Linked DNA regions of Homo sapiens. Each later gene encodes a partner of the first gene's protein in a complex. Each region holds a gene or a part of one and is shown on either strand. Other genes may lie near its edges. The genes, in order: TIMP1 and MMP3. A codon is read from its position in the direction of its gene.

The links.
Region 2: the proteins of TIMP1 (region 1) and MMP3 are in contact, whole or in part, in a crystal structure (PDB 1UEA), measured with the Homo sapiens proteins. Residues at the interface, in NP_003245.1 of Homo sapiens: Cys24 (codon at 915), Thr25 (codon at 912), Cys26 (codon at 909), Val27 (codon at 906), Pro28 (codon at 903), Pro29 (codon at 900), Val52, Thr56, Leu57, Tyr58, Pro87, Ala88, Met89, Glu90, Ser91, Val92, Cys93, Thr121, Cys122, Leu156, Ser157, Pro159, Gln173, Leu174, Gly177, Glu179; in NP_002413.1 of Homo sapiens: Phe100 (codon at 987), Thr102 (codon at 981), Phe103 (codon at 978), Phe171 (codon at 531), Tyr172 (codon at 528), Gly178 (codon at 510), Asn179 (codon at 507), Val180 (codon at 504), Leu181 (codon at 501), Ala182 (codon at 498), His183 (codon at 495), Ala184 (codon at 492), Tyr185 (codon at 489), Ala186 (codon at 486), Thr207 (codon at 423), Thr208 (codon at 420), Gly209, Thr210, Val215, His218, Glu219, His222, Phe227, His228, Tyr237, Pro238, Leu239, Tyr240, His241, Ser242.

The regions. Positions count from the first base shown.
Region 1 is NC_000023.11:47,580,484-47,584,399, reverse strand, and holds the start of TIMP1 (metalloproteinase inhibitor 1 precursor), read right to left. Parts: upstream 1,965-3,916; 5' UTR 1,926-1,964; intron 993-1,925; 5' UTR 985-992; coding exon 864-984; intron 1-863. UniProt on the Homo sapiens protein: Metalloproteinase inhibitor that functions by forming one to one complexes with target metalloproteinases, such as collagenases, and irreversibly inactivates them by binding to their catalytic zinc cofactor.
Region 2 is NC_000011.10:102,841,738-102,845,653, forward strand, and holds the start of MMP3 (stromelysin-1 preproprotein), read right to left. Parts: upstream 1,873-3,916; 5' UTR 1,810-1,872; coding exon 1,705-1,809; intron 1,180-1,704; coding exon 935-1,179; intron 843-934; coding exon 694-842; intron 543-693; coding exon 417-542; intron 1-416. UniProt on the Homo sapiens protein: Metalloproteinase with a rather broad substrate specificity that can degrade fibronectin, laminin, gelatins of type I, III, IV, and V; collagens III, IV, X, and IX, and cartilage proteoglycans.

The DNA.
Region 1 (3,916 bases):
CTTGCTAAGTCAGTTTAGCAAGAACCCCTATATTCTATATCTGATCATCCTCAATCTCTGATCATCCTCAATACCTGATCATCCTCAATCTCTGATCATCCTCAATACCTGATCATCCTCAATCTCTGATCATCCTCAATACCTGATCATCCTCAATCTCTGATCATCCTCAATCTCTGATCATCCTCAATACCTGATCATCCTTGCTATCTGACTGGGTTCTTCATCTTCCACCATCCCCCAGGTGATGTCTGATTCCCCTTGGCCTGCCTTCAGCAAGAATCCTGTTACGTCGGTTTAGCCAGAATCCCCCTTACCCCTGATGTTTCTTCTTAGTAATTTCCACCCACAGACCCTCACACTGCTCCTTAGCTACACATTCCCACTGGCCCATGCTATATTCAGTGTTGAGCCCAATCTCTCCCACCGACTGCAAGATCCCATTGCAGTGGTTCCTATACCCATCACCATGGTCCTGAATATGGTCTTCCTTACTGTGTTATAACAAGTATCACTGAATATTTTTCTGTTTAACAGGAGATCAGGAGTACTAAGGGGCAGGGGTTAAAATTTTAAACAGGATGGCCAGGGAAGGCCATCCTGAGAAGGTGACGTTTGAGGCAGCCACCCATGTGGATACCTGGGGGGAAAGTGTACCAGGCAGAGGGAGCAGCCAGCATGCAGATCCTGTGGTGGGCTTGGGCACAGAGTACTCAAGGAAGTGTGAGGATGCCAGTGTGGCTAAAGCAGAGGAAGTGCAGGGGCGAGTGGAATCATTCTAGAGGTAAGTGCCATGGTGAGCCCCACTGGACTGAAAGGGAAACCAAGGCAGAGTGTGTGGGCTGAGTGGGGTGAGGACTCACCGAGGTCGGAATTGCAGAAGGCCGTCTGTGGGTGGGGTGGGACACAGGTGCAGGCCCTGCTGGGGGCTATCAGCCACAGCAACAACAGGATGCCAGAAGCCAGGGGCTCAAAGGGGGCCATGGTGGGTTCTGTGGGGAAGGGGGATGTCAGGCAGGCCCCGGCCCAGCTGATCTGCTGACCTGGGCAGGTCATCCACCCCATCTTGCCCCGGGGCAGCCTATGGGGGGGATTAGGGGGCTGGATTTGGGCTTGAGGGGTTGGTAAGCTTAGGGATTTTAAGGGGATTGGGGAGCGCAGAGGAATTTAGGGTTTAGAGAGTTGGGAGAGTTTAAATTATTGAGGGACTGAGTGAGTTGCGGGGTTATGGGGTTGTGGCACTTGGGGGAGAAGGGGGCTGAGGAAGTTTGAGGAATGAGGGGATTGGGGAATTCTGGAGGTTGAGGAGTTTGGGGGTGAGGAATTTGGGATTGGGGGCTGGAGGAGTTTGGAGACGGCAGAGTTTAGGGGTTGTGTATATTAAGAGATATAAGAGGCTGGGGGAATTTAGGGAGGTTGAGGAATTTGGAGGAGGTTGGGGGTTTAGGGAGCTGGGGGAGTTTGGAGGTTGAAGGGGTTGGGGGAATTTGGGGGCTTAAGGCAATGGGGATACTTGAGGAATTTGAGGGCAAAAGAAGTTTGGGAGCTGGGGAACTGGGGATTGGGGAGCTGGGGGAGTTTAGGGAGCTGCAGGGGTTAGCGGTGGGTATTTAGGGGGCGATGAGGGAAATTTCGGGATGAAGGAATTTGCGGGGGGATTTGGAAAGCATTTGTGATATTAGGGGGTCATGGGTTTGGGGGAATTGGGGGCGGATGTCAGGGGTTCTAGGGAGTTTGGAGCCTCGGGGTTGGGAAAGCAGTTCCAGCCTCCGACCCTCTTCCCCCTAGACTAGCCCAGGGTCCTGGTACCCGCAGGCCAAGCTGAGTAGACAGGCATCTGGCACGGGAGTGCACGGGCCTGGTGGCCAGCACCCAAGCTGCAGCCCAGCTCCGGTCCCTGCTGGGCCACCCCGGGCCCTGCTTACCTCTGGTGTCTCTCTGGGCGCTGGATCTGCGGCGATGGCGGCAGGGCCTGAGCGCTAGAGGATAAATGTCCACGCTAGGGGCGGGGGTGGCAGCGGGTGCGGAAACCACAGGCCTCCAGGCTTCCTGGATGCATTACTCATCCACCCACCATCAGTGCAGAAGCCAAGGGGCGGGCCGACGAAAGGAGATACACCCTCCTCCTCTCCCACCCGCCTCCTCTCCCTCTCCCTGGGCCTCGCCCGGGCCAGCCACCTCCCCCACCTCCACGTCAGTCACTATTCCTTCCAAGCCGCCTCAGCGGAGAGCTTAGAGGCCGCATTTCCCCCGGCCCAGTCCCCTAAAGTCTCCAGAATCTATCCAATCACCCACATCCCCCAAGCTCCCTATGACTCAAACCCAAATTAGTTCAGCCCTTCAACATTTATTGTGCATCTACTGTGTGCCAAGCACACAAAAATCCCTTGTTTTGTATGTCTGACATGCTGGTGAGGGGTGGCAGAGAGGAAACAAATTAAGTAGCAGCAGTGGAGGGAGATAAGGCAGGTGAAAGGGGAGGAATACAAAATGGGGAAACTGAGGCACGGAGTGGTTAAGTGACTTACCCAGGATCACAGAGTCAATACATGGCAGAACTGAGACTGGAACTCAGGTGGCCAGGAGCCAAAGCCAGGGTCTCAAATAACACAGGCAAATAGCCGGCATTTATACAGCACCTACTGTATACCAGGCACTCAGCATAGTTTATCTCACTCAAAGCTCACAACAAATCTCTGAGATGGGTACCGGTTCTTATTCCCGTTTTACGGATGAGGAAATATGGGGCGTAGAGGAACTGTAGAATTTTCCTAAGATCACAGGGCATGGCCGGGATTCAAACAGAGGCTACCTGGCACCAGGGTTGTAACTCAGGAGTGGCACCGTCCTAGCAAGCAGGGAATGGTGCGGGTGAATGAATGAGCATTGGGAAGGGGGTGGCCATGAATGATGGTGAAAGAAGCAAGTGAGTGGGTCAGTAGAAAACTAATCCCCACCCCATCCTGCCCTGCCCCCTCCCCATGGACCTGTACCCCTGGTGGGGGGTGGGGTGGGGCAATCCTTGCCCACCAGCTTTCTGACAATGCAGGAACCTTCCCTGGGGTTCTGATTAACATCCTTAATTCGAGGAGGATAGATCAATAATAATAATTGTAGTGATGATGGCAGCCACTTATTGAGCACTTTCTGTGTACTATGTGCTAAAGTGTTTGTATAAATTATCTCATTCACTCACCATACTCCCTTGCTAATTAAGTTTGATTAACTCAGGGATGATAGCCCAATAACAAGAACACAACAAAAACTACCAGCAGCCCTTATGGAGTGCTTACTGCGTATCCAGCACTATTCTGGGTGGGAGGAATGTGAGGGATGAGAAATTGCCTAATGGGTACAATGTACACTATTTGGTTGATGGGGACACTAAAAGCCCAGACTTCACCACTATGTAATATATCCATGTCACAAAACTGCAGCTGTACCCTCTAAATCTATTTTTTTTTTTTGACAAGAGTCTTGCTCTGTCACCTAGGCTGGAGTGCAGTGGCGCGATCTCAGCTCACTGCAACCTCCGCCTCCGGGGTTCAAGAGATTCTCCTGTCTCAGCCTCCTGAGTAGCTGGGATTACAGCCACACCACCACCACCCCCAGCTAATTTTTGTAGTTTTAGTAGAGACGGGGGTTTCACCATATTGGTCAGATCTCGAACTCCTGACTTCAGGTGATCCACCTGCCTCGACCTCCCAAAGTGTTGGGATTACAGGCGTGAGCCACCACACCCGGCCTTCTAAATCTTTTTTTTTTTTTTAGACAGAGTTTCGATCTTGTTTCCCAGGCTGGAGTGCAATGGCAAGATCTTGGCTCACTGCAACCTCCACCTCCTGGGTTCAAGCAATTCTCCTGCCTCAGCCTCCTCAGTAGCTGGGGTTACAGGCACACGCCACCACGCCTGGCT
Region 2 (3,916 bases), on another chromosome or scaffold:
TTTCTGAAATTTAATTCTTATTTCTGGTTTGAAGAGTAAAGAAGTAAATGGAGGAAATTACATAAGTAACATCCAGAGCACATTTTAATGTAGATTCAGTGCAATATACTATCCCTTGAATGTTTGTATTTTGATATGAGAAATTTTTCTTAATAATGGTTACCCCTAGATCACAAAGATCCAGTCATTAAAGAAATACTTAATGATATTTCCTATATTGTGCTTACCAATATAGGAAAACTGTTAAAGCATCTGAAAATATTTTCAATAATAATTAAAACAAAAATATATTCTGCTGATCTCTGATCCACTGGAAAATCCAGAACATCTCATTTCTTGAGCATTCTTGGTTATTAACAGATTTCTACATATAAAAAAATTAATGCCAAAATCATTCTGAGAGATGTGTAACTAACCTGTTGTATCCTTTGTCCATTGTTCATCATCATCAAAGTGGGCATCTCCATTAATCCCTGGCCCAGGGGCATAGGCATGGGCCAAAACATTTCCAGGTCCATCAAAAGGGTAAAAGTCTCCATGTTCTAGTAGGAAAAAAATTTATTGGAAAGATATGTAACAAGGATCCCTTTTGAGCCTTTTCCAGTACAACAACACCAGATAGATGAATGGATACATTTCATGTGTTTTTTGTTTTGTTTTGTTTTGCTTTTTTTTTTTTTTTTTTTTTTTTACCTCTAACTGCAAAAGAGATCATTATATCAGCCTCTCCTTCATACAGCCTGGAGAATGTGAGTGGAGTCACCTCTTCCCAGACTTTCAGAGCTTTCTCAACAGCAGAATCAACAGCATCTTTTGGCAAATCTGGTGTATAATTCACAATCCTGTAGGAGAAAAATTGAAGCAGATGCTATTTTCTCCTATGATATAGTTTATAAAATTCCAATCTTATGTGAAAACCCCTCTGAACCATTACCTGTATGTAAGGTGGGTTTTCCTCCACTTCGGGATGCCAGGAAAGGTTCTGAAGTGACCAACATCAGGAACTCCACACCTGGGCTTGCGCATCACCTCCAGAGTGTCGGAGTCCAGCTTCCCCGTCACCTCCAATCCAAGGAACTTCTGCATTTCTCGGATTTTTTTAACAACAGGACCACTGTCCTTTCTCCTAACAAACTGTTTCACATCTTTTTTGAGGTCGTAGTAGTTTTCTAGATATTTCTAACAGAATAAGTATAGTTTTTAGGTCACTCTTACAATTTTTACTATAGCTATCTATTTATAGTAAGTTTTTGCAGTTGCTCACTTCTTAATCTATTTGGAGTATTTCTCTAGCTTGCTGAAATAATGGCAAATTTTATAATATGATACTAGCAACACAAATATTTAGCTAAAATTACGTTGCATTAAAAAAAAAACTGAAGCTGTTCCAAAGCAAGATATGGTTCATCCACTCTCCACTTGTTACTCATGTGCCTTAAGCCCCAGTGCTGCTACTGCTATGGTGTTGTGTGATCTTAAGAAAACACCTAATATTTCTGGCCTTTGTTTCTTCCTACATAAGAGGAGAAGCCCAAATGGTGTGATAATGAGACCTTTTCCACTTCCAACACTCTATAACTCTCTATTCTTGAACTGTTCCTACACAGTAAGCTCAAGCATTCTATGTGGGTTTTAAGACACACAGAATGGTTTCAGCTTACTCTGGAAGCTCCCCACCTGGCCAGGTCAGTTAGTGTTAATTACCTGAACAAGGTTCATGCTGGTGTCCTCACCCCTTGCAGCTCCATCCAATGGATAGGCTGAGCAAACTGCCACGCACAGCAACAGTAGGATTGGAAGACTCTTCATTTCCACTGGCTTTACTTAGCTCTATGTTGTCTCTATGCCTTGCTGTCTTGCCTGCCTCCTTGTAGGTCCAACCTCGGGAGCGCAGCTTTTAAAGAGTGACAGTGTTTGTTTGGATCACCCGCAGCTTGACTCATCCTTGCTTTCATCCAAATGGCAGCAGGACCATTTCCAAACATTCCAAATTCAAAGTAGGATGATACAACCTACTTTACTAATTTCTCTCAACCTTCCCAATTTTGCAAGGCAACACAGTGATTAATCTCCAGGAAGTGCTTCCTGTCTTGGTAGAGGAGAAAACTGGAGCATTTTTTTTCTTCTGGAAAAATTGACTGGAATTCACTAGACAATTTATGTTTGTCCTTTTGAGAGAAGAAGTAGGTTGACTTGGTAAAAATCAGAATTGTGCAGAACTTCTAAAAGCAGTTTTATTTTAAGAAACACATTATAAAAGCAAATAAAAGATGTAAGTGGAAAGTGTACATACATAGCTATAGTCTATACTATATACAATTATACTCAAAACATAAAAGATAATATCTAGAAGAAATTTAGAAGGGGTGATTTATTTTTCTGAATCTGATTTGTAATGCCTGCTATTGACTGTCGTTGGATTTGCTGGTTCTTGAGGAGGAAAACCTCATGGGCAGAATAGAACAAAGAGGGTCTGTGAAAAAGAAGGAAGTATATTCCCTTTGGGTTGGTTTTAATTCTGTAACCAATTTATTAATGGGTGATGGGCCCACGTAGCTGCTCCATAAATAGTTGTAGAATTGAAATGAATTACATTGCTTACCGGACTGAAATTCTCTCTGTCCTTGTCTTCTACACATGTCTTATTCTCTTTCAACCTTTTCCCCTCCTCCCTAAATTCAAATTAGCAGATGCTTTGAAGTTGAAGAACAGAATCCATCCTAAATTTTCTCTTCATGCTCTTCTGTTTTCTTCCTTTCCTTTCTTTTCTGTTTCTTTGTCAAGTAAAGTGTTGCTCACATTATTGGTGTATAATAAATGCTTGAATGCAAGACTCTAAACATATTCAGAGGAAGACATTTTGTAAAACTTTTATAGTCCTCTTGCCACCTGCCACCATCCATCTCCTCAATGCTTCCCTGATCACCACATTTTGTTTGTTCTTTCTTTCTTTGCTGACTTGCTTATTTGTTTGCTAAAGGGAAGAACATCTTGGGAGTAAGAACTCAGTAGAATGATGGATACAAATGTGCATTTATTAGACCTTTAATAAGTGCCCATTTTGCTTCCTCTCATTTATAACTCTTTTGCATTTTCTTCTTTGCTTTATTTTTTGTGTGTTTCTTAATAAACATTGGAGAGATTTTACCCAATAAGTTTAAAGGGATTTCTCTGTGGCAATAAGATCCCTATGACTGAAGATGCCCACACAGTTGATAGCCACTTGGCAGGGGGCTATACATCACATTTAAGCCTTCATTTTTAGACTAGATTATGTCTAAAGACTTTTTCAAATTTTATTTAAAAAATAGAGACAGAGGTTTCACTATGTTGCCCAGGCTGGTTTCGAGCTCTGGGCTCAAGTGATTCTCCTGCCTCAACCTCTCAAAGTGCTAGGATTACAGACATGGGTCACGGCACCTGGCCTAAAGACATTTTAAAACTAGTATTCTATGGTTCTCCATTCCTTTGATGGGGGGAAAAACCATGTCTTGTCCTGATTGAAATACAGGGAAAATATTTGGCCACATTGATATGAGGACAAGGAGAACAGAGTGGTGGCAGTGATGTGAATTCCAGGAAGAAACAGTGGAGCCCAACAGATAAAATATTGAGAGGTTAAAAGTGTAGAAGCTGTGGCAGCTCTAATTCCTTCTATATTAAGGTTTATCCTTTGTAAATTTTCTCTGGAGTTATAACTTATAAAACATATTTAAAGTTTAGAGGAAAGCCTGATAGATAATATGTTTGCTTTTCCAACTGTTAAGATGTGATTGGCAAAATGGGCCATGCTGTTCCTGAACTAAATACAAAAGTTTGCTATATTTTAAAACAGCTTCGACGACTTCCCTGAAAGATGTTTCCCAAGTCCCAGGAAGAGTCATTAATCATTGTTCAATGGTACCTTGTACCTGCC